7 linked regions of the Homo sapiens genome follow. The protein of the gene in region 5 purifies or fractionates together with the protein of the main gene of each other region. This does not show direct contact. Each region holds a gene or a part of one and is shown on either strand. Other genes may lie near its edges. The genes, in order: SGK1, EIF4H, BZW2, PPAT, PFAS, ITM2C and PPP6R3.

Evidence for each region.
Region 1: the proteins of PFAS (region 5) and SGK1 purify together in Homo sapiens (co-immunoprecipitation; one large-scale study listed by IntAct). This does not show direct contact.
Region 2: the proteins of PFAS (region 5) and EIF4H fractionate together in Homo sapiens (co-fractionation; one large-scale study listed by BioGRID). This does not show direct contact.
Region 3: the proteins of PFAS (region 5) and BZW2 fractionate together in Homo sapiens (co-fractionation; one large-scale study listed by BioGRID). This does not show direct contact.
Region 4: the proteins of PFAS (region 5) and PPAT fractionate together in Homo sapiens (co-fractionation; one large-scale study listed by BioGRID). This does not show direct contact.
Region 6: the proteins of PFAS (region 5) and ITM2C purify together in Homo sapiens (co-immunoprecipitation; one large-scale study listed by IntAct). This does not show direct contact.
Region 7: the proteins of PFAS (region 5) and PPP6R3 fractionate together in Homo sapiens (co-fractionation; one large-scale study listed by BioGRID). This does not show direct contact.

The regions. Positions count from the first base shown.
Region 1 is NC_000006.12:134,168,756-134,171,934, reverse strand, and holds the end of SGK1 (serine/threonine-protein kinase Sgk1), read left to right. Parts: intron 1-202; coding exon 203-298; intron 299-756; coding exon 757-912; intron 913-1,019; coding exon 1,020-1,109; intron 1,110-1,499; coding exon 1,500-1,667; 3' UTR 1,668-2,679; downstream 2,680-3,179. UniProt on the Homo sapiens protein: Serine/threonine-protein kinase which is involved in the regulation of a wide variety of ion channels, membrane transporters, cellular enzymes, transcription factors, neuronal excitability, cell growth, proliferation, survival, migration and apoptosis.
Region 2 is NC_000007.14:74,173,054-74,177,155, reverse strand, and holds the start of EIF4H (eukaryotic translation initiation factor 4H), read right to left. Parts: upstream 2,801-4,102; 5' UTR 2,773-2,800; coding exon 2,714-2,772; intron 1-2,713. UniProt on the Homo sapiens protein: Stimulates the RNA helicase activity of EIF4A in the translation initiation complex. Binds weakly mRNA.
Region 3 is NC_000007.14:16,701,681-16,705,180, forward strand, and holds part of BZW2 (eIF5-mimic protein 1), read left to right. Parts: intron 1-2,866; coding exon 2,867-2,989; intron 2,990-3,500. UniProt on the Homo sapiens protein: Translation initiation regulator which represses non-AUG initiated translation and repeat-associated non-AUG (RAN) initiated translation by acting as a competitive inhibitor of eukaryotic translation initiation factor 5 (EIF5) function.
Region 4 is NC_000004.12:56,397,616-56,401,115, forward strand, and holds part of PPAT (amidophosphoribosyltransferase), read right to left. Parts: intron 3,297-3,500; coding exon 3,169-3,296; intron 1,786-3,168; coding exon 1,564-1,785; intron 1-1,563. UniProt on the Homo sapiens protein: Catalyzes the formation of phosphoribosylamine from phosphoribosylpyrophosphate (PRPP) and glutamine.
Region 5 is NC_000017.11:8,266,289-8,268,637, forward strand, and holds part of PFAS (phosphoribosylformylglycinamidine synthase), read left to right. Parts: coding exon 1-65; intron 66-212; coding exon of another isoform or gene 213-235; exon of another isoform or gene 236-464; coding exon 465-610; coding exon of another isoform or gene 611-622; exon of another isoform or gene 623-739; coding exon 740-947; intron 948-1,083; coding exon 1,084-1,175; intron 1,176-1,262; coding exon 1,263-1,377; intron 1,378-2,244; coding exon 2,245-2,349. UniProt on the Homo sapiens protein: Phosphoribosylformylglycinamidine synthase involved in the purines biosynthetic pathway. Catalyzes the ATP-dependent conversion of formylglycinamide ribonucleotide (FGAR) and glutamine to yield formylglycinamidine ribonucleotide (FGAM) and glutamate.
Region 6 is NC_000002.12:230,877,345-230,879,748, forward strand, and holds the end of ITM2C (integral membrane protein 2C), read left to right. Parts: intron 1-55; coding exon 56-206; intron 207-663; coding exon 664-755; 3' UTR 756-1,904; downstream 1,905-2,404. UniProt on the Homo sapiens protein: Negative regulator of amyloid-beta peptide production. May inhibit the processing of APP by blocking its access to alpha- and beta-secretase.
Region 7 is NC_000011.10:68,568,752-68,572,251, reverse strand, and holds part of PPP6R3 (serine/threonine-protein phosphatase 6 regulatory subunit 3), read right to left. Parts: intron 2,505-3,500; coding exon 2,355-2,504; intron 1,213-2,354; coding exon 1,148-1,212; intron 1-1,147.

The sequences.
Region 1 (3,179 bases), on a different chromosome or scaffold from region 5:
TGCCCAGCAGTTTCCTAAATGTCAGTACACATAGGTAGCCAGTCACCCTCAAAAAGTCCAGCAGTTTTATCAGGAAGGAATCTAAAGATATCTATCTTCCAAGCTGGCTCTGGGTCTCTCAGCTTTTTCAAACTAAATGTGTGGTCGTGGGATTGCTTGCTTTCGCAGGTTCTAAACGCTGTTTCCCTGGTCTGTTTTTCAGTATCTCGCACCTGAGGTGCTTCATAAGCAGCCTTATGACAGGACTGTGGACTGGTGGTGCCTGGGAGCTGTCTTGTATGAGATGCTGTATGGCCTGGTGAGTGGCACATTGGGAACCATGGAACACTGCCTGCTCCCTACAATATTGCCTTCACACAGCCCATGCTTGGCCATGGTGTCTTGCCCTTACCAGTACGCTTATCAAAAGCAGCTAAGAGGCATATTGGTTATTTTATAGTTCATAAGAATAATCACTTACCTGGTTCTTTTGTGCATTTCACATTTTACTAGATAGGACCACATTGAACCTGTGTGGTGGTGAAAAACTACCACTTATTAACATCTACCCCCTCACCCTCCACACACACACACACAAACACACACACGGGTTGCAAAGTAGACACTTAAATAGCAAGGGAAAAGAAAGCATTGAGGTGGGGAGAGTTTCTCAAATCGAGCCTAATATTTATTGCCGTTTATATCTTTTTCTCTACTGGTAATGTGTGCCATATGAAACTTCCAATTAAGTCTAAAGTAATTTTCCCCTTCTTTCAGCCGCCTTTTTATAGCCGAAACACAGCTGAAATGTACGACAACATTCTGAACAAGCCTCTCCAGCTGAAACCAAATATTACAAATTCCGCAAGACACCTCCTGGAGGGCCTCCTGCAGAAGGACAGGACAAAGCGGCTCGGGGCCAAGGATGACTTCGTGAGTGATGTTTTCCTGTCCTCCTGGGCCGGCCGGGACGTGCACTAGACCTCCCTGCCCTTATTGAATGCACCTGTCTAAATTAATCTTGGGTTTCTTATCAACAGATGGAGATTAAGAGTCATGTCTTCTTCTCCTTAATTAACTGGGATGATCTCATTAATAAGAAGATTACTCCCCCTTTTAACCCAAATGTGGTGAGTATCTGTCTCTCTTCTAAGTATAGAGAAGCCCAAAGGGCATTTATTTTAATTCAGAATTGTCTGGGGGAGGGTTGGAAGGAATACATTGGCAGATGTTTTCTCCATAAACCTGTTATTTTACCTACATAAAAAGCACATTTTTGTGTCCCAACAAGGCTCCCATAATTTTTAGACACATTTATCAATTCGAAGCACCAAAAGGCAACAAGTGAACATTATTCTTATGTTTAACTGTGTGTAGCCTTTTGAGATTTTGTGCTTGAAGTGGGTGATTATGGAAGTTGATATAAGACTTAAACTTGGTATTTAAAGCCTGGTCAAGATTTCCCTGTCCTGTGTCTAGTGTGAGTTCTTGACAAGAGTGTTTTTCCCTTCCCGTCACAGAGTGGGCCCAACGACCTACGGCACTTTGACCCCGAGTTTACCGAAGAGCCTGTCCCCAACTCCATTGGCAAGTCCCCTGACAGCGTCCTCGTCACAGCCAGCGTCAAGGAAGCTGCCGAGGCTTTCCTAGGCTTTTCCTATGCGCCTCCCACGGACTCTTTCCTCTGAACCCTGTTAGGGCTTGGTTTTAAAGGATTTTATGTGTGTTTCCGAATGTTTTAGTTAGCCTTTTGGTGGAGCCGCCAGCTGACAGGACATCTTACAAGAGAATTTGCACATCTCTGGAAGCTTAGCAATCTTATTGCACACTGTTCGCTGGAAGCTTTTTGAAGAGCACATTCTCCTCAGTGAGCTCATGAGGTTTTCATTTTTATTCTTCCTTCCAACGTGGTGCTATCTCTGAAACGAGCGTTAGAGTGCCGCCTTAGACGGAGGCAGGAGTTTCGTTAGAAAGCGGACGCTGTTCTAAAAAAGGTCTCCTGCAGATCTGTCTGGGCTGTGATGACGAATATTATGAAATGTGCCTTTTCTGAAGAGATTGTGTTAGCTCCAAAGCTTTTCCTATCGCAGTGTTTCAGTTCTTTATTTTCCCTTGTGGATATGCTGTGTGAACCGTCGTGTGAGTGTGGTATGCCTGATCACAGATGGATTTTGTTATAAGCATCAATGTGACACTTGCAGGACACTACAACGTGGGACATTGTTTGTTTCTTCCATATTTGGAAGATAAATTTATGTGTAGACTTTTTTGTAAGATACGGTTAATAACTAAAATTTATTGAAATGGTCTTGCAATGACTCGTATTCAGATGCTTAAAGAAAGCATTGCTGCTACAAATATTTCTATTTTTAGAAAGGGTTTTTATGGACCAATGCCCCAGTTGTCAGTCAGAGCCGTTGGTGTTTTTCATTGTTTAAAATGTCACCTGTAAAATGGGCATTATTTATGTTTTTTTTTTTGCATTCCTGATAATTGTATGTATTGTATAAAGAACGTCTGTACATTGGGTTATAACACTAGTATATTTAAACTTACAGGCTTATTTGTAATGTAAACCACCATTTTAATGTACTGTAATTAACATGGTTATAATACGTACAATCCTTCCCTCATCCCATCACACAACTTTTTTTGTGTGTGATAAACTGATTTTGGTTTGCAATAAAACCTTGAAAAATATTTACATATATTGTGTCATGTGTTATTTTGTATATTTTGGTTAAGGGGGTAATCATGGGTTAGTTTAAAATTGAAAACCATGAAAATCCTGCTGTAATTTCCTGCTTAGTGGTTTGCTCCCAACAGCAGTGGTTTCTGACTCCAGGGGAGTATAGGATGGTCTTAAAGCCAACCTACGTTCCAGGCCTTTTTAGCAGCATTTTATGGTGTCTGTCATTCATAAATCCATCCAAGGAAATCCTTTGCAATTTACTCATCTTGCAAGGATTGCTATGAAGTAATGCTTCCTGTATTTATTGCCTGTCCTGTGAAGTTGGACTATTTGTCCTGACATTTGGCTTGTCTTCAGTTACAGGTAATTCTTTCCAGAAATATTTGAAAGCCTACTCTGGGCTCTATTGCGAGTGCTCAGGATATCGTAGTGGACAAAGCAGACAACTTCGCCCTTCCAGAGCCTGATGAAGAAGGCCGACCTAAAGCAGTTAGTTGAGATGGAAATT
Region 2 (4,102 bases), on a different chromosome or scaffold from region 5:
GCAACATAGTGAAACCCATCTCTATTTAAAAAAGAATTCTAAACTCCCTAACTGAATCCTGATAAAGAATAAATTTGGAGTTTTGCCAGTTTTTAGATGGCACCATTTCAGCCACCTCAATTCTTGCCACCTCCAATTTCCACCCTAATTCTCAGGATCGGTGGTTTTCCACTAAGCACTCATAGCTTTGTTGCAATTAGAAATATAAAATCAGTATTACTCTGCACTTTACTGCCAATGGTAGATGAGAAACTGGAACCTCAAAAAGATAATTTAGCAAACTGCAAAACAAAGTCCATTCAAGATCTGGTACAATCAACTCTTGATCATTTGGAATTTTGTTTTGATTTGCTTGCTGAACAATGCAGTCCCTGGTTCTCTCCCTGGCTGCTGGGGACATGCCCTTACAGGCTCGGGGGAAAAAAGCAGTGGTTCAATACTGTTTCCTGACAACTGCACTGGTTATTAAACACAACTACGAAATAAACTTAGGAAGATGTATAACTACCAAACTATGTTTTATGATGATAACTGTTCATTTTAGGCCTACCATTTCTTTCACCTGTGACCCAAGTAATTCAGAGGTGAGATGTACGAGCCTGTCTGAGGCATTTTAGACAAGGGAGAAGGTGCCTACACAAGTACCAAACAATGCAGTGTTAAAACTGCTTTCCATAGGTGGCAATCTTCTATGATGCTTAAGCATTGTAAAGCAGTGACATTTGTTCATGTGGACATAATTAAAATAATTGAGGCCGGGCGCGGTGGCTAATGCCTGTAATCCCAGCACTTTGGGAGGCTGAGGCAGGAGAATCGCTTAAACCCGGGAGGTGGAGGTTGCAGTGAGCCGAGATCACACCATTGCACTCCAGCTTGGGCAACAAGAGTGAAACTCCATCTCAAAAAAAAAAAAAAAGAATACACATGTATAAATGAATATGTAAATTCACCAACAAGTTTTTAAAACTACTTCTGAAAGTAGCAATACTTTATGTAGTTTCACATTAATATGAAGCCAAATAGAAAATTCCAAGTAAGTGAGACATAGAAGATGCTTAACAGTAAAGAGACTTTCTATTAGGAAGTTCAAGTGATGCACAGTGCTACCTAGGAAACTCTCCTATCAGTTTTTGGAGTACACCTGGGGCAAATGGCTAATATTTTCATCTGCTGTGGAGATTTGAAATTAATAGCATCTTAATAGAATTTTACTTCTGATTGTTCCTGGCACCCCCAAATGTCAAAATTTGACACCAGAAGAGCTGGCAAATGTGTCTGAAGGAAATTTTTTTAAATCCCCACACTCAGTTTAATAAGGTCACCTTATTGTAGTCCCAATGCAACTAAAACTTAAATTGACCACGCTGTTTAAGAAGAATTTTTCTGGGTACTTCTGTGAACGTTTTTTGGAACTAGGAAAAAAAAAAAAACCCTAGTTATTAAATTTCGAAATGACTTGAGAACAAATTTGATGTTTAGAAACCTAACCCAAAGGCGATAATTTCATGTCATCCAACATTTACTTCTTTTTTTATTAGCAAATAAAATGTTCTTTGGAATGACAATAGCTCCACCTACACCGGCACACTTCCACGTTACAGTATCATGAACATTAGCTACACTCCTGCCCCGAAACAAGCTTTTGTCTGAGCCGTTCCCAAACCAAGGTATTAAAAGTGATCATTCTTTACCAAACAAAGATACTTTTGGACTGCAACCCAGGAGACTGAACACCTCAGTGTGTATTATTGTGGTGTTATCCTGGGAAAGTAATCCTTTCTGCAAGAAAACACAAAGCCCAAGTGTGTCCTTGACAAACAGCAAGATGTTCATAGCCTATATTCTAACGAGGCAACTTGTATTTAAAAAATAAAATAAAAAAAAGTGCAGAGTCCTGGAATTAAACACCATGAGCTCTCTATTCAAAGATGTTTCTTTTAAGCAAAGTGTTTCAATTATACATAGTTGTCTGCATTTGACAACAATCAGGACGACGCTAAATGCGGTTCCTTCTCCAGATCAGAGCGAGAAACCAAGGAGAAATGAAATTGTGCCAAAGAGCACGTAGCACCTGTCAAGGCACTGTGACCCAAGAAAGATTAATACAAAGAAGCTACGATGGATTTATCTCCTTGGTCTCCCCCCGCCCGCAAGGAGTCGTACCATCCCCGGGCCAGAGCCGCCAAATCCCTGCCTCACACGTAAGGGGAAGGGAATCGCCCCTCTTGGCTGCCGACCTTCCCCAGTCGGCCGGCCTCGTGGCGAAGGGGCCAGGGGCCTGCAAGGCGGGCAGGCAACAGAGGGCCGCGAAAGAGGCCGGGACCGGAGCGGGGCAGGCCGTGTGGCCCGTACCCCAGCGCCACAGCTCAGCCCCGCACTGGTCCTACCGTAGGGGGGATGGGGCTGGAAGCGGGCGCTCGTCTCCGGGCATCGGCGCCGCCGCGGCCAAGGCAGGGCAAAAACCAACACGTTGTCGTTGGCGGGAGGCAGTGGAAGGGATCCGCCCCGCAAGCAAGACCCCGGGAGCCCAGCCGCCGCCGCCCCGTCTCCGAGCGCGCCATTTCCAGGCCCCGGCCCTCCAGGCGCCGCTCCTAGGCCTCCGCGGGCCCCCGCCTCCCGCCGCCCCGGCTGAGCGCAGGACGGCCGCCACCCTGACGGCCCCGACTCCGCCGGTCCCGCAGCCCCCGACGGGGCCCGCGCACGCCCGCCTCACCCTCTGCCGCCGCCGAAGCTGCTGTAGGCCCGATCGTCGTAGGTGTCGAAGTCCGCCATTTGCCGTCTCCGCTCCGAGAGGAACCAGGGTGAGCGAGGAAGGACCCCGCAATATAACTCCCCCCGCCCCGCCGCCGGGGCTGTCCGCCGCGCCGCCTGATCGCAAATCCCTTGGACGCAGGCACGCGCACGCGCGCGCGCGCACGCACGCACGGACGCTGGCCGCGCAGCGCCCGGCCCTGGGCCCACCGGCAGCTGCCTGCCCCGTGCGCTCTGCAGCCCACGTGGTGCGGCGGCGTCCCAGCTGGACGCCTGCCCGGCCTACGCGGCCCATTATGTGCTGGCCCTGGGGTGCGCCCGTGGCTGCCTCCTATCCCCGCCGCACCACGCCCGTGCGCGCCGGCCTTTCCGTCCGTCGGCGGGAGGTGACCTGGAGAGCTGGGGGGAACTCCCTCTCCAGTTCGCCTGGGACGCTGCCTTTCGGCCTCCATACATGGCGGGGACCTCGGAGGCCTGTCCCGCTTGGACCCCCAAGTGGTCCCCGGGTGACACCCAAGTAAAGGCCACCTCCTTCTCCAGGCAGGAGCTGGCCACACGATGAGGATGCCCCGGAAGGGGGTGCGAGGCGGTGGGATGCAGACACGAATCCTGCCTTCCAGGGCTTACTCGCTGCCTGGGTATTGGGGGGTTTTGAGAGGAGAGAGTATAGGTGATCGGTGACTTAGCAAGAGAGACTGCACATCTCGGTTTTTTGCAGAAGTCGTTGCCTTGGAAAAAGAATTGGATACTGTTGTGGATTCCATCATCTAGCAATAACAAAACATGGTTATGCAGTGGGAATTAATTACACGGGTAAATTTCCAGGTTTGTGATTGAGATGGTAGTAATTGTGGATGCCACGATGTTGACAAACCTTAATTATCTAAGCACACTTTGAAAGAACCTCATAGAATTTTGTTGTGATGTGTACCTAGGTATCTTCCGCTTAACCATTACTTTTTATTATGTATTTATTGGTTCGTTGTTGAGACAGGGTCTCGCTCTGTCGCCCAGGCTGGACTGCGGTGGAACAGTGGTAGCTCACGGCAGCCTTGACCTCTTGGGCTCATGCCATCCTGCCGCCTTAGCCTCTGGAGTAGCTAGGACTATAGGCGGGCAGTACCTCGCCTAATTTGCATTTTTTTTTTTTTTTTTTTGAGATGGAGAATCAGGTTGGAGTGCAGTGGCGCAATCTCATCTCACTGCAACCTCCACCTCCTCGGTTCAAGCAATTCTCCTGCCTCTGTCTCCCGAGTAACTGGGGTGACAGACGTGCACCACCACACCCAGTTAATTTTTGTATTTTTAGTAGAGACAGCGTTTCACCATGTTGCCCAGGCTGGTCTTGAAC
Region 3 (3,500 bases), on a different chromosome or scaffold from region 5:
AAATTGAGAAATATTTATTTTTTCTCATCAAGTTAACAAATTTATTCCTTAAACGTGTGTTGAATCGATACTATAGGGCAGGTCTTTCATTAAATGCTGGAAATGAGATGAACAAAATATAGTCCCTGACTTCCTGAATTTCAGGATGTAGAAGAAAACAAAGAATTACACTCACCATGTCAATTGCTGAAATAAGCCTCACACAGAGGGTGTCAGAAGGGATAGGACCACAGAGGGAGGGCACCTAACTTGTTAAAGGTAATTTGGAGGGGGAGAAGTGAAGGCTCTCAAGGTACATGTATCTCACCAGACATTATGAAGAAGTTGGCCAGATAGAAGGGGAAAACATATATTCCAGTCTCTATGTGCCATCATACAATGTCTTCCTTTCTTACTGTCTTTTACTGTTATTCTATATTCCTAATAGGCATTTATGAAATATCCCACCAAAAATGGTTTCTCAGTTTTAATTAACTCTTTTCCCTACTTTATCCTTAGTGAGGGAAAAAATTGTCTGAATTCTTTGTCCCTCAAGGAGTTCCTTCCTTTTCAGACCTTTCCTTTCACTAAATAGAAGTTTAATTTCTTCTTAAACTCTTCGATGTTCATACTTTGCCTCATATGGTGCTCTGTGTAGATACTTCAGTAGCTTTTAATTAATAATTCTCTGGTACTAGAAGTTTGATCTTTCAGCAAGTAGTTGTTACTACCCTGGGTTCTTCTAAGAACTCCACATTGCGCCGTTAATATGTAGACTTATTTTAAATTCTCCTTCCTATTCTTAACATTAAATATTCTCAATTAATGGTAACTTAAGAATATCAAGGCACAAGATTTGCAATAAACAATGCATTTGATAGGTTTTACCTATCATTTAGTGTGCTTTTCACAAGCACTGACATTGACAAGCATTTTAGTAGTTGCATGGTCTCCTTCAGCCTCTGTGAGGCAATAAAACACAGGAATGTGCTCTCAACCTTCAAAAGGAAAGCTCAGACAAATAGTATCACTAAACTGCAGTCTACATCAGCTTTCCAACCTGTACTTTGTATCATCCTCAATTCATTAAGGTGTGGAGAAAAAAAACAATTCTCCTTTCCATGTTTGTCACAGTTTAAAATTATATTGTTTGTGCAGAACATTAATAATGATAGTTTAATAGTGCATGAATATAATTTATAAACTCAAAAATATACATATGTTGGGTGTATATGCTCAAAATTATCCTACAGGCAGGAAGACATGATCCAAACAGTTTGATAATTACTGATCTAATCATAAGCATCTTAAAGATAATTTACAAGTTATATAAAAGGGTCTTTTAAAATCCCTGTTAATGTTCTTTAAAAGTCTCTGCAAGGCAGTCTTACACAATAACAGGTCACTTCCTCGGGACACAACTGCCTGCTCCTCAGCTCTATGACAATTAGGCTCTGATGGCTGGTAGAAATTTCTTTTATCTCAGTGGAGAGCTGGAAACAAAGAGCTAAAATAACTAGAAGCTAAGAATAAGTCTACAGGACCCCTGATTGTAGCTCTTACATCCAGGCTCTATAAGTAAATCCAGACTTCTTGCTTCCTTTGCAAAATGTAATGTTTTTAGTGATGATAATAAACATGTTTTTTTAAAAAACCTTTTATTTTCATAAACAAATCATGTTCATTTTAGTCAGCTCAGCCTCTTCAATTTAATTCAAGAACATTTTCCAAGAGCCAATAATTCTTTAAAAATAAAAAAAGCCAATGTTTTTGTTATGAAACTACCAGTGATGTTTTAAATGAAAACAATATTAAATTGTTTCTGTCATTTTCATAAGTTGAAATTATATTTTAACTGAAAAGATATCATTAAAGTAATTTATTAACATTATATGGCTTTATCAGTATTTGTAATGAATTGAGCACATCTCGGGGACAATAATAAATGCTTTGTACCTGTTTTCTGTCTCGTTTCCCACTACAGATTCCCAAACAACAACCCATTAGAACATTGGAACATTAGAAGAATGTTAGAACAACCCATTAGAACATTGGGAGACTATGTACACTTATTTTTATATTCTCCTTCCTATTCTTAACATTAAATACTCTCAATTAATGTTATGTTGAGAATATCAAGGCACATTTGTGGAATTTAGAGTTTTAGACAAAAGATAGTTAACATTTTTTGTTGTTTTTAGAAACCTGTAGGAAATTAGCTAATATGTCTATTTTGTCTTAATGTAGTAGAGGAAAAATATTACTCTTGTAATTTGGGATATACTGTGGGAAAATAAGTCGTGATTTAGTGATGGAGAAAGTGTAGAACTTCAGTTTAGGTGTGTATTACTCCCACAACATAGCCCAGAAGTTCCTCTTTATATCTAATTGCTAACATCATTATTGCATACTATCTACATTTTTTTCCTTTGTCATTTTTCTCCTAAAAAAAGAAAATCCCAATCTCCTTAAAAGACACTGGTCATTTGAGGTTACTCTTTAATCAAGATATGGTTGAACTTGGCAGGACCCAAAATGTTCTAAAATGCTGGAATTGCTGGTTCATTTGCAAAATTACAAAACAATTCTATTTCCTACCAGCAAATTAGCACTGTGAGAGATTTCCAAGTCCTAGTAGTGAGCTATAGGCTTGCATTATATCATGCCTAAGAAGATGTATATCATCATCATCAGTACTTAAGCCTTTAGTAAGCTATCAAAATATGGCACTATGCTACATGAAAATCAACTTGGTTCCTCTCTTCTGATAAGTAACAGAATGCTTTATATTTAAAATGATTGCTTTCTATTAAACTGTAATACATGAAGTTGTTTTGAAACATGACATTTGTATAGTAACTTTGAAATCTTTGATTTAAAATTGCAGCTGATGTTCTGAGCGAAGAAGCAATACTGAAATGGTATAAGGAAGCACATGTTGCTAAAGGCAAAAGTGTTTTTCTTGACCAGATGAAGAAATTTGTTGAGTGGTTACAAAATGCAGAAGAAGGTATGATTCTGTTTACAAACATTGATGACCTTTAAACACTGTCTCATTATATGTCAAAATATTTACCTCTTCCACAGATTTTACTTGATTTTCTAAAACTAAAATTCTAGAGTTATCTTTCGTATCAAACATTTTGCCAACATCTTAGCTTTCCTTTCTGAAATCACGGCAATAAAAATCTCTACATGTAAAAACAAAGAAAGAAATGAAATGCTTAAATTATCCACTCTGATGGAGGACAATAAGGAAGAAATGATTAGTAGATGTGAAAGGAGAAAAATACATTTAGCTTAATCACGCATTATGGAATTCTATAGATTTTTATGACACCTTTACCAATTAACTGGCAATTTTAAATAATGGAAATATAAAGTGGAAGGATAATAATGAGTAAGAGTGAATTCAGGCCAGGTGTGGTGGCTCACACCTGTAATCCCAGCACTTTGGGAAGCAGAGGTGGGTGGATCACCTGAGGTCAGGAGTTTGAGAGCAGGCTGGCCAACATAGTGAA
Region 4 (3,500 bases), on a different chromosome or scaffold from region 5:
GTATGAGCTACTGAAATAGAATAAGCTTTGAAATCTTAAAATAACTTAATATATCTATATAAAAACATGTACACAATAAATATATACATTTGTCAATTTAAAAAATAAAAATTAAAAAAAAATTTTTTTCAAGACATAAAGTGAGGCCGGGTATGGTGGCTCACACCTGTAATCAAGCACTTTGGGAGGCTGAGGCAGGCAGATGGCCTGAGCTCAGGAGTTTGAGATCAGCATGGGCAACATGGTGAAACCCTGCCTCTACTAAAAATACGAAAAATCAGCCGGGCATGGTGGTGTGTGCCTATGGTCCCAGCTATTTGGGAGGCTGAAGTGGGAGGATCTCTTGAGCCCAGGAGGTGGAGGTTGCAGTAAGCTGAGATCGAACCACTGCATTCCAACCAGGTGACACAGTGAGTCCCAGTATCAAGGAAAAAAGAAAAAAAGGCATAAAGTGATATTAAAATATAACTTGGCCGGGCACGATGGCTCACGTCTGTAATCCTAACACTTTGAGAGGCCGAGGCAGGTGGATCACCTGAGTCCAGGAGCTCAAGACCAACCTGGGCAACATGGTGAAACCCCGTCTCTGCTAAAAATACAAAAATTAGCCTGGCTGCAATGGCACATGCCTATAGTTGCAGCTATTCAGAAGGCTGAGGTGGGAGGATTGCTTGAGCCCCAGAAGCAGAGGTTGCAGTGAGTTGAGATGGTGCCATAGCACTCCAGCCTGGGCAACAGAGCCAGACACTGTCTTTAACAAATACATTTTAAAAAATAATAAGTCAAAGGTATTACACTGGGATTGGCTGCATGTCTTCAAGTAGAGAAAGCAATCAATACTCCATTGATTTTAAAAAGCATTCTATTGTGTGTTTTTGACTTTTTTTTTTTTGAGATCACTTCGGCTCACTGCAATCTCTACCTCCTGGGCTCAAGCCATCCTCCCACCTCAGCCTCCTAAGTAGCTGGAATTACAGGTGTGTGCCACCACGCCCCACCCATTTTTTGTAATTTTAGGAGAGGTGAGTTTCACTATGTCGTCCAGGCTGGTCTTGAACTCCTGGATGCAAGCAATCTGCCCACCTCAGCCTCCCAAAGTGCTGGAATTATAGGCATGAGTCACTGTGCCCAGCCTATTTTGTGTAGTTAGTCTTTGAATAAATTTTGTAAAAATTTTAGGTTTTTTAAAATTTAATTTTATTATTATCTTTTATTTTTGTAGAGACAGGGTCTCACTATATTGCCCAGGCTGTTCTCGAACTCCTGGGCTCAAGCAACCTCCTACCTCAGGCTCCCAAAGTACTGGGATTACAGGCATGAGCTACCTCGCCCAGCCTTAAGCTTTTATATTGAGCTTTTTTAATCTATTAAGGATTACATTTAATGTAAGTGTGGCTGTGACATGTTCTTCAAGTTGCTACACAGTTATTCCTAAACCAAACTGATAAAAAAAGTTAATTTATTATATTGAACATCCATTTTGATTCACTACCCTGAATTGCAATTTTATGCCAGTATCTTATTGTTAACTTATGCTTTAGGATATGTTTTAATATTACTTACCTCTTTTGCACCAGATTCTTTGAGCAGTTTTATTATAGGTGAGATGGTATTGCCTCTGACAATTGAATCATCTACAAGAACAATTCTTTTGCCTTTAAAGTTGTCTGACAATACTCCAAATTTTTTTGCAACACCAAGTTGTCTTAACCTCATGTTTGGCTGAATGAAGGTTCTCCCTACATACCGGTTTTTACACAGCACCTCCACATATGGAAGTCCACACTGATAGAGAAGAAATGAAAGGATAATGAGGAGTAATATACAGAATAGGCAAATATTTTCTCTAGGTTGTGTTGCCGCCACAATATTCAAGTAAAATTTCAAAATAATTTTCCTTTATTATTTGGAAAAAAGGCAAAAAGAAAAACCACTAAACAAAATATACTTGGTGGAAAAACCAATTCATTTTGTGAGGACTCATAATGTTTTTGTCTTAAACATTATTCCTCTGTTTTGAAAGATAACAGTAAGCATATGAAGACATGACAAAGATTAAATCACTGTCAGAAAAATTCATTATCAAAATGATAATTTTTAAAGAAATGAATTAAAATAAATAAATAAAAACCAGTAGACCAATGAGATACTTTTTAGGGATAGGAAGTAATTAACCCATTTATCAAGGTAATCTTTTCTAAAATGTATGCATATTAATTCTTTTAGAAGTTAATAAAGTATCCAAGGTAGTGAATATTGGATGTTATACCCCAGGATTACTACAGTTACACCATCTACCTGGTTATGAAAATAAAGCGTAACACTGACAACATCATGCTAAATGAACATAAACAGCTTTATTATTACCCATACTTAGTAGCAAGCAAATATTCCAGTGACTTGTGAAGATAATTCAAGACGTTTATTTTAATATTAAGTAAATTTTTCCACTGAATATATAGTTGATGAACACCATGGGTTTGAAGTACATGAGTCTACTTATAGGTGGGTTTTCTTCCATCTCTGCCACCCCTGGGACAGCAAGTCCAGCCCCTTTTCCTCTTCCCTCCTCAGCCTACTCAACGTGAAGACAACAATGAGGATGAAGACCTTTATGAAGATCCACTTTCACATAAGGAATAGTAAATATATTTTCTCCTCCTTATGATTTTCTTCAAAGCATTTACTTTTCTCTAGCTTACGTTATTGCAAGAATACAGCATATAATACATATACAAAATATGTTAATCAACTGTTTATGTTATTGGTCAGGCTTCCAGTCAACAGTAGGTTATCAGTATTTAAGTTTGGGGGCATTAAAATGCATACACAGATTTGACTGTGCAGAGGGTTGGCACCTTTAACTCCCAAATTGTTCAAGGGTCAACTGTATATTCATGATGTTATCTTTTTAAAAAGAAGGGTGCCAATTTCTGAACGCTTTAGTGAACGTTTTTTTCTTTTCAGTGAACCTTTTAGTGGTTTTCACTAAAATAGTGCCATTGGATAAAAAGCCTGGAAAATAAAAAACGCTTGTAAACAAACCAACATTAACCACCAAAGCTTCCTTTCTCCTTAGAAATGTTGATGAGTTTCTCTTTATAGGCAAGGGTTTCTTATTCCACAGCTGGGAGAGCAATTCACTGCATGTTAATTAAGAGAAAATACCTTTCCTGCGTAAGCAAGAGCAGCAGGCGTAGCAGATTCTGGAACAGTGCTAACCAAATCTGCATCCACAGGTGCTTCAATCGCTAGCTGCTGGCCACAACGGTATCTTACTGTATAAACCATTTGGTCTGGTGTGTTTGGAAAAGGAGAGAGAGTATTTTTACTTAGCATGATATAACAGTGTTATTCTAAAAAACTAGTGCTAGAATTCTACAGATTGAGTATAAAAAGAAATGCAATATATACAAAAATATGAATGTGAAAATACACAAACTGGGGAACTCAACTGTGTGGTTTTAAAAAAAAAATCGACCTTCATATAGATCTAGAAA
Region 5 (2,349 bases):
GCTGGAGATGGCCTTTGCTGGAAATTGCGGGCTACAGGTGGATGTGCCTGTCCCCAGGGTTGATGGTAAGGAACCTGGGGTCTAGTCTCAGGCCCGGGCTGCCTTCTCTACCCTGCAGACCCCATTTCCAATATATTAAAGAGTGGAGTGCCCTCCAGTCCCCTTTCCCTGAGTCTTCCCTGACTAGCTTTTCTGTGCTGTCTCTCTGACAGCTGAACTGGATGGAACTGGCTGACACCCACCATGTTCCTGACTGCACCCCTCTGAGACTTCCCATCCCTGAGATGTCCATGATGAAACATCCTCAGTCCTGCCGTCCTAGCCCTCATCCTCCCTGATCCCTACCCTACTCTCTGGCTGCATCCCTCTGACCCTCACCCTGGCCCTTCCTGCATTTCCCTGATCCCGCCCCAACTCCCTTGGCCCTTCTTGCATCCCCCTGACTCCCCACATTGCTCTCCCAGTCCTGTCTGTGCTGTTCGCTGAGGAGCCAGGCCTCGTGCTGGAGGTGCAGGAGCCAGACCTGGCCCAGGTGCTGAAGCGTTACCGGGATGCTGGCCTCCATTGCCTGGAGCTGGGCCACACAGGCGAGGCCGGGCCCCACGCCATGGTGAGGAAGTGAGGGAGAGAGCGGTGTGCAGTGGGCAGTCAGAGTGGGGTGGCCGCGGTCCATCCCTCTCCCACTGTGGAGGGGGCCATCCTTTCTCCTAGCCCGTGGGAGATTTGTTCCTCTTCCTAGGTCCGGGTGTCAGTGAACGGGGCTGTGGTTCTGGAGGAGCCTGTTGGGGAGCTGCGAGCCCTCTGGGAGGAGACGAGTTTCCAGCTGGACCGGCTACAGGCAGAGCCTCGCTGTGTGGCAGAGGAGGAACGGGGCCTGAGGGAGCGGATGGGGCCCAGCTATTGCCTGCCCCCCACCTTTCCCAAAGCCTCCGTGCCCCGTGAGCCTGGTGAGGGAGTGTGTGCAGAGGCTCCGCGTCCTGGGGGCACTGAGCCTGGATGCCTGGGCCTGCCCTCAGAAAGGTGTCTGGGGAGTTGGGGTGGGGAAGTGACTTTCTGGCCCAAAGACACTTATTCTCCCCCAAGGTGGTCCCAGCCCCCGAGTCGCCATCTTGCGAGAGGAGGGCAGTAATGGAGACCGGGAGATGGCCGATGCCTTCCACTTAGCTGGGTTTGAGGTGAGCAGGGTAGGGGGCAGCTGGGGGTGATTGTCCAGCCTCAGCTGCGTGTCCTCCCACCCACACTCCCCCTCCCCACCTTCGCAGGTATGGGACGTGACCATGCAGGACCTCTGCTCTGGGGCAATTGGGCTGGACACTTTCCGTGGCGTGGCCTTCGTGGGCGGCTTCAGCTATGCAGATGTCCTGGGCTCTGCCAAAGGTCAGTGTGCAGGCTTCTGCCCACTCCCTTCCCCCACATTCCTGAAGAGGTGCCTTTAGCCCCATCTTCCTGGGCTGGGGATTGGCCTCTCACTCCACCGAGCTACGAGAGAGTGGGCCCATTCGTTCTGGGCCACATGCCAACAGAAGGCTGGTAGTAAATTTTTAATTTTTTCATTGAAAAAAAGTATATATATACACATATGTAATTAAAATATATATTATTAAATATATATTATTTATATATATTATTTATATATTATTAAAATGTATATTATTTATATATTATTAAAATATATATTATTTATATATATTATTTATATATTATTAAAATATATTATTTATATATATTATTTATATATTATTAAAATATGTATATTTTTAAATATATATATATATATATATGTATTTTTTGAGACGGAGTTTCACCCTTGTTGCCCAGGCTGGAGTGCAATGGCGCAATCTTGGCTCACCGCAACCTCCACCTCCTGGGTTCAAGCGATTTTCCTGCCTCATCCTCCCAAGTAGCTGGGATTACAGGCATGCAAAAATACAAAAATTAGCCAGGCGTGCTGGCGGGCGCCTGTAATCCCAGCTACTTGGGAGGCTGAGGCAGGAGAATCGCTTGAACCCAGGAGGCAGAGGTTGTAGTGAGCCGAGATCATGCCACTGTACTCCAGCCTGGGTGACAGAATGAGATTCCATCTCAAAAAAAAAAAAAAAAGAAAGAAGGAAAGGAAGGAAGGAGGGAGGGAGGGAAAAGGAAGAAAGAAAAAAGAAAAGAAACAGAGCAGTTATGCCCCTTCATTCCCAATTCCCTTTTTTGAGGTCCTCCATGTCTCACCCTGACTTCCCTATTCCCTGCTAGGGTGGGCAGCTGCTGTGACCTTTCATCCCAGGGCTGGGGCTGAGCTGAGGCGCTTCCGGAAGCGGCCAGACACCTTCAGCCTGGGCGTGTGTAATGGCTGTCAAC
Region 6 (2,404 bases), on a different chromosome or scaffold from region 5:
GGTTGGACGAAAGCCTGAGGGGCCGACTCACTGTGGCGGCCACCTTGTTTTGCAGAGGGGGACCTACCTGCCGCAGACGTACATCATCCAGGAGGAGATGGTGGTCACGGAGCATGTCAGTGACAAGGAGGCCCTGGGGTCCTTCATCTACCACCTGTGCAACGGGAAAGACACCTACCGGCTCCGGCGCCGGGCAACGCGGAGGCGTGAGTGGCTGGCTTCACCCACAGTAGCCCCTGTCCCGTGCCCCAGACCACAGTTATCTTCACGCCTAGCCCAGCTGTCAGAGAGCTCAGATAGCAGCAGCAATAACAGCTAGCATTAGCAGAGCACTTCCGTGTGCCGGGCAATGCTGTGTGCTCTTTATGACCTCTTAAGAGTGTAAGTCATTCTCATCCTCATTATTATTTTTGCTGCCCATTTTAAAGATGAGGAAACAGGTGCAGAGAGGTTAACACCCTGGAGGTCACACAGCAGGGAGGTGGCAGACATGGGCAGGCTGACTCCAGCTTTCGAGCTCTCCCCATTTCTCACTGTGCTCTTTGGGTGAATCTGGGTGAATGGTGTCACTTCCTGGCCCTCCTGTGGCTCAGGCTGAGGCTGGTGGTCTTTGTGACTCAGCCAGGATGCAGGGCTCACTGGGGTTTTTCTTTTTCCTCCCAGGGATCAACAAGCGTGGGGCCAAGAACTGCAATGCCATCCGCCACTTCGAGAACACCTTCGTGGTGGAGACGCTCATCTGCGGGGTGGTGTGAGGCCCTCCTCCCCCAGAACCCCCTGCCGTGTTCCTCTTTTCTTCTTTCCGGCTGCTCTCTGGCCCTCCTCCTTCCCCCTGCTTAGCTTGTACTTTGGACGCGTTTCTATAGAGGTGACATGTCTCTCCATTCCTCTCCAACCCTGCCCACCTCCCTGTACCAGAGCTGTGATCTCTCGGTGGGGGGCCCATCTCTGCTGACCTGGGTGTGGCGGAGGGAGAGGCGATGCTGCAAAGTGTTTTCTGTGTCCCACTGTCTTGAAGCTGGGCCTGCCAAAGCCTGGGCCCACAGCTGCACCGGCAGCCCAAGGGGAAGGACCGGTTGGGGGAGCCGGGCATGTGAGGCCCTGGGCAAGGGGATGGGGCTGTGGGGGCGGGGCGGCATGGGCTTCAGAAGTATCTGCACAATTAGAAAAGTCCTCAGAAGCTTTTTCTTGGAGGGTACACTTTCTTCACTGTCCCTATTCCTAGACCTGGGGCTTGAGCTGAGGATGGGACGATGTGCCCAGGGAGGGACCCACCAGAGCACAAGAGAAGGTGGCTACCTGGGGGTGTCCCAGGGACTCTGTCAGTGCCTTCAGCCCACCAGCAGGAGCTTGGAGTTTGGGGAGTGGGGATGAGTCCGTCAAGCACAACTGTTCTCTGAGTGGAACCAAAGAAGCAAGGAGCTAGGACCCCCAGTCCTGCCCCCCAGGAGCACAAGCAGGGTCCCCTCAGTCAAGGCAGTGGGATGGGCGGCTGAGGAACGGGGCAGGCAAGGTCACTGCTCAGTCACGTCCACGGGGGACGAGCCGTGGGTTCTGCTGAGTAGGTGGAGCTCATTGCTTTCTCCAAGCTTGGAACTGTTTTGAAAGATAACACAGAGGGAAAGGGAGAGCCACCTGGTACTTGTCCACCCTGCCTCCTCTGTTCTGAAATTCCATCCCCCTCAGCTTAGGGGAATGCACCTTTTTCCCTTTCCTTCTCACTTTTGCATGTTTTTACTGATCATTCGATATGCTAACCGTTCTCAGCCCTGAGCCTTGGAGAGGAGGGCTGTAACGCCTTCAGTCAGTCTCTGGGGATGAAACTCTTAAATGCTTTGTATATTTTCTCAATTAGATCTCTTTTCAGAAGTGTCTATAGAACAATAAAAATCTTTTACTTCTGACCTTGACTTGAGTGTGGCTGGAGGGGAGATGGGTGTAGGAGGGGTGCTCCGGGCAGGGTCGAGGAGCTGGACCTCGGGAGCAGCAGGCAGGGAGAAGCCTGCAGACCTTGACATCTGGCCCCTAAAGAGCTGGGCATCCTGGATTCAGCCAAGGAGTGTAGGATATCCCCTTCGTAGCACCCTGGATCTGAGCCAGGTAGAGTTCACACTTTCCGGGTGAGGAGGGGAACAGGGCTGGGAGAGCTTACCGACTCGCCCAAGGTCGTGCTGCTTTAAGTGCCTGTAAACCACCCTGTAATGTTCTACCTGGCAGATGACATCATTATTGCATGTCCTTAAGCACAAGGGCGGTGTCCTATTCTCCACCACGTCTGGACAATTTGTAACCATTCCTGGAGGATCTGAAGTGAGGTTTGGTGTGATAATCACAGGGTCACATTCTCCAGAGAATTCTGGAAGCGGCAGGAGAGCTGGCCAGAGCCATGTCTAGGTGGACCCCA
Region 7 (3,500 bases), on a different chromosome or scaffold from region 5:
CAAGAAGACTGGAGGTTGGGAAGGACACAGAGAAGCCAAGACGGAGTCAGACATATAACCAGAGATGTCAACTGGGCCACAAACAGCATCTCCAAAGAGCTCCATTTGGAAGAATGTATCTGAGGTCTACCAATACTAGCCCCTTGCCACAAACAAACAAACAAAATGCCAATTTCCCACATGAAGCCAAATCAAAACCCTAGTAGCAGTGCTTATTAAACGATTTAAAAAAAAAAAATCAAACCTCACAAAGTAAGGCTGACTCCCAAGAGTCATCTAGCTTTCCTGGAGACACAGAGACACATAACAAGAATGCTGGGAAATGATCAACTACAAAGGACCATGAGAGAAATTTTGGGGGTGACAGAAATGTCTTGATTGTGGTGATGGTGACTTCAGGCATCAGTCAGAATTCCTAGGAATGTACACCTAAAATGAGCTTTACCATATGAGAATTATATCTCAATAAACCTGTCTTAAAAACAAACACAGAAGCATGCCTTCAGAGTGTTTCCCAAACACGCCCTTATGCCACCATGCTTCAGAATCTACGGGGTGACATAAAGGCTTCCAGGGCACTAGAGAGGAATGCTGTTACAGACAACACCTGTAAGAAAACGTTTTGTGTAACAAAGCTACTTACATGTATCAACTAATACTTCACATAACCTTGCCAATCAGCTAACAAACATTTTCTAAAAAGAAAACACTGAGCAATTTTTTTCCTCTAGGTCCCTGTACAAAGCAACTCTTCTCTACAATGAAAATATGTACGTGATACCTTCTGTTCTGAGCATAAGGTGACCAGGACAAATACACTAAGTCACATCATCAAGGACTTAACTTTAACCTTATAACTCTTAGAACAGTAGCCATTCAAAAAGGACCAGGAAGTTTCAAAGGCAGCACAGAGGTGGGGAACACTCCGAACTCACTTGTTTTGCCCCAAAAACAAGAGGACCTAACAAGAAATTATTAGTATTATAAAAACAACTGTTACAATGAAATAATCTGGGGAAAAGTTTAAATTGTAAAATGGCCAGTATCATGTAATTATTTCCATTTTTTTCTGACTAGGGCAAGGAGGTATTATTTTCCTCATATTACCAACCAAACTGAATTCCTTTCAAAAAAACAATTTACTTACTGTTTCTTCTCATTCATTTCCCAGGCTTCAAGTATTCGTTCTATTAATTGACATTTTTGGAAAAGCTGAAAAAAAAAAAAAGAATATTCCAGTTAATACTTCAAAGCATCAAAACTTTAAAGTGAAACAGAACTCTAGGTTAAAGAGAATAGTAGTATGCATAATCTAGCAAGCTAAATGTTACTAAGCCAAATGCAATGTGATCATCAATCTACTGCAGACACCCACAACACTACAGAGATTCAAATCAGGATCCACACCCTCCACAGAACATCTACAGGAAACTCAGTATTATAGGTAGTGCAGTTAACTACCTATAGTTAACTATAAAGGAAAGCCAGGTTTTATTAGCTGTGAAAATTCAGAACAGAAATATAAAACCTGAGCTAAATTAAAATGGAATAAAGAAAACTATGCCTTGGCAAAAATTTAACTTAGAATCCAAAGTAATGCTTGTACTTTTAAAATGTGAGCACGTCTTACTTCCAGATGAACTAACATTACTGCATTAATATTAAAAACAGGTGGGTTTTGCCCAAAGTCTGCAAGTCAGTGACAACTGCTGTAGGCTGCAATACTGGAATGTGCAGGGCTAGTTCTTCTCAGGTGTCATTTGTCTTTCCCATCAACTTGGCTGTTCCAAGCTAGCCTTTTCTACATTTTAGGTTTGCGAGTAAACCAAGTGTGGGCTAGAAATTTTAAAAGTACCATAGAACTACCAAGCAAGAAAAAATCTGAAGACTGACTTAGTAAAATTATCTCATATTTGACAGAAGAGAAAAAGAGACCCCAGGAAGACTCTCAACATCACAAAGAACTCAGTTCTCCTGACTTTCAGTCACGTATTCAGCAAAGAAACTACACTCTGGTCAGCCAAATAATAGTGCAAATGTTTTCCATAGTATTTAAATTTCTATGATTCTTCAAATCATCAAAGAATTTATATATCTTCAAACCTATTAATTTTACCAAATAAGGAGGCCACTTAGCTTTTTTCTTACAAGACTGTTCATTTAATAGTTATTTGTCCAGTACTTGATTTATATAATGATTTATATGTTAAAAGTGAAACGAACACATGATTGTCAAATATTTAGACTCTGAAATCTAACCTCAAGCCCTTTAAACCTCAATTCACATCACAGTCAAGTGGAAAACTGCTATAACCAGGAGAGAGTGGGAGAAAAACGAGACCAAATAAGCTTACATGTTTTAATAACAAATTATCACCAGTGGAGTCTTGATCGGTAATTGTGGCATTTTCTGTGTTTTCAAAAGGACTTGCAAGAATCAGTGCAATACAAATTTCCACTTGTGTATGCAAAAAGTTATTCCATGTATACTTGAAGAACATGTTCTACAAAAAAGAAAAACCATGTTTTATTCGGTTACCTCAATGTTTAAGCCAATACTTAAATACATTTACAGAACAGTGATTTAATAAAGTAAAAATGATGTGCTCTCAGTCCAAAAGGACCAATTAAAAGGAACCTGAGTTCACATTAGTACTTGCATAACCACAGTTTCATTTTCTGTGGTTTCAGTTACCCACAGTCAACCATGATCTGAAAATAGGTGAGTATAATACAGTAAGACATGCTAATCCAAGAGATGACATTCACATAACATTCATTACAGTATAGATTTATAATTGTTCTACTTTATTATTAGTTATTATTAATCTCTTCCTGTGCTTAATTTATAAATTAAACTTTGTCACAGGTATGTATAGGAAAAACACATAGTATATATAGGGTTCGATAGCTGTGGTTTCAGGCATCCAAAGGAGTCTTGGAAGGTATCCCTCATAAATAACGAGGACTAAATGGGGATGTGAAGTATTGCTTTAGAGCCTAAATGGCGTGCTATCTGCTTATCTGACATGCCAGAACTGGTATGGAATCTAGTAAAAAACCAACAACAAACATACAAAGACAAGAGTACGTTTCTCCAAGAGAAAGGGAGTATCTTTTTTCTCTTCAAAGCAACTAACACAAATAGTTAGCGTGGTAAATTTTCTATAATTTTCAAAAAAATTTATAAGAGGCCAGGCGTGGTGGCTCATGCCTGTAATCTCTGCACTCTGGGAGGCCGAGGCGGGCGGATCACGAGGTCAGGAGATCAAGACCATCCTAACACGGTGAAACCCCGTCTCTACTAAAAATACAAAAAAATCGCTGGGTGTGGTGGCGGGCGCCTGTGGCCCCAGCTACTCAGGAGGCTGAGGCAGGAGAATGGCGTGAACCCAGGAGGCGGAGCTTGCAGTGAGCCAAGATCACTGCACTCCAGCCTGGGCGACTGAGCCAGACTCCATCTCAAAAAAAAAAAAAAATTGTAAGAATTTCATTTTGAT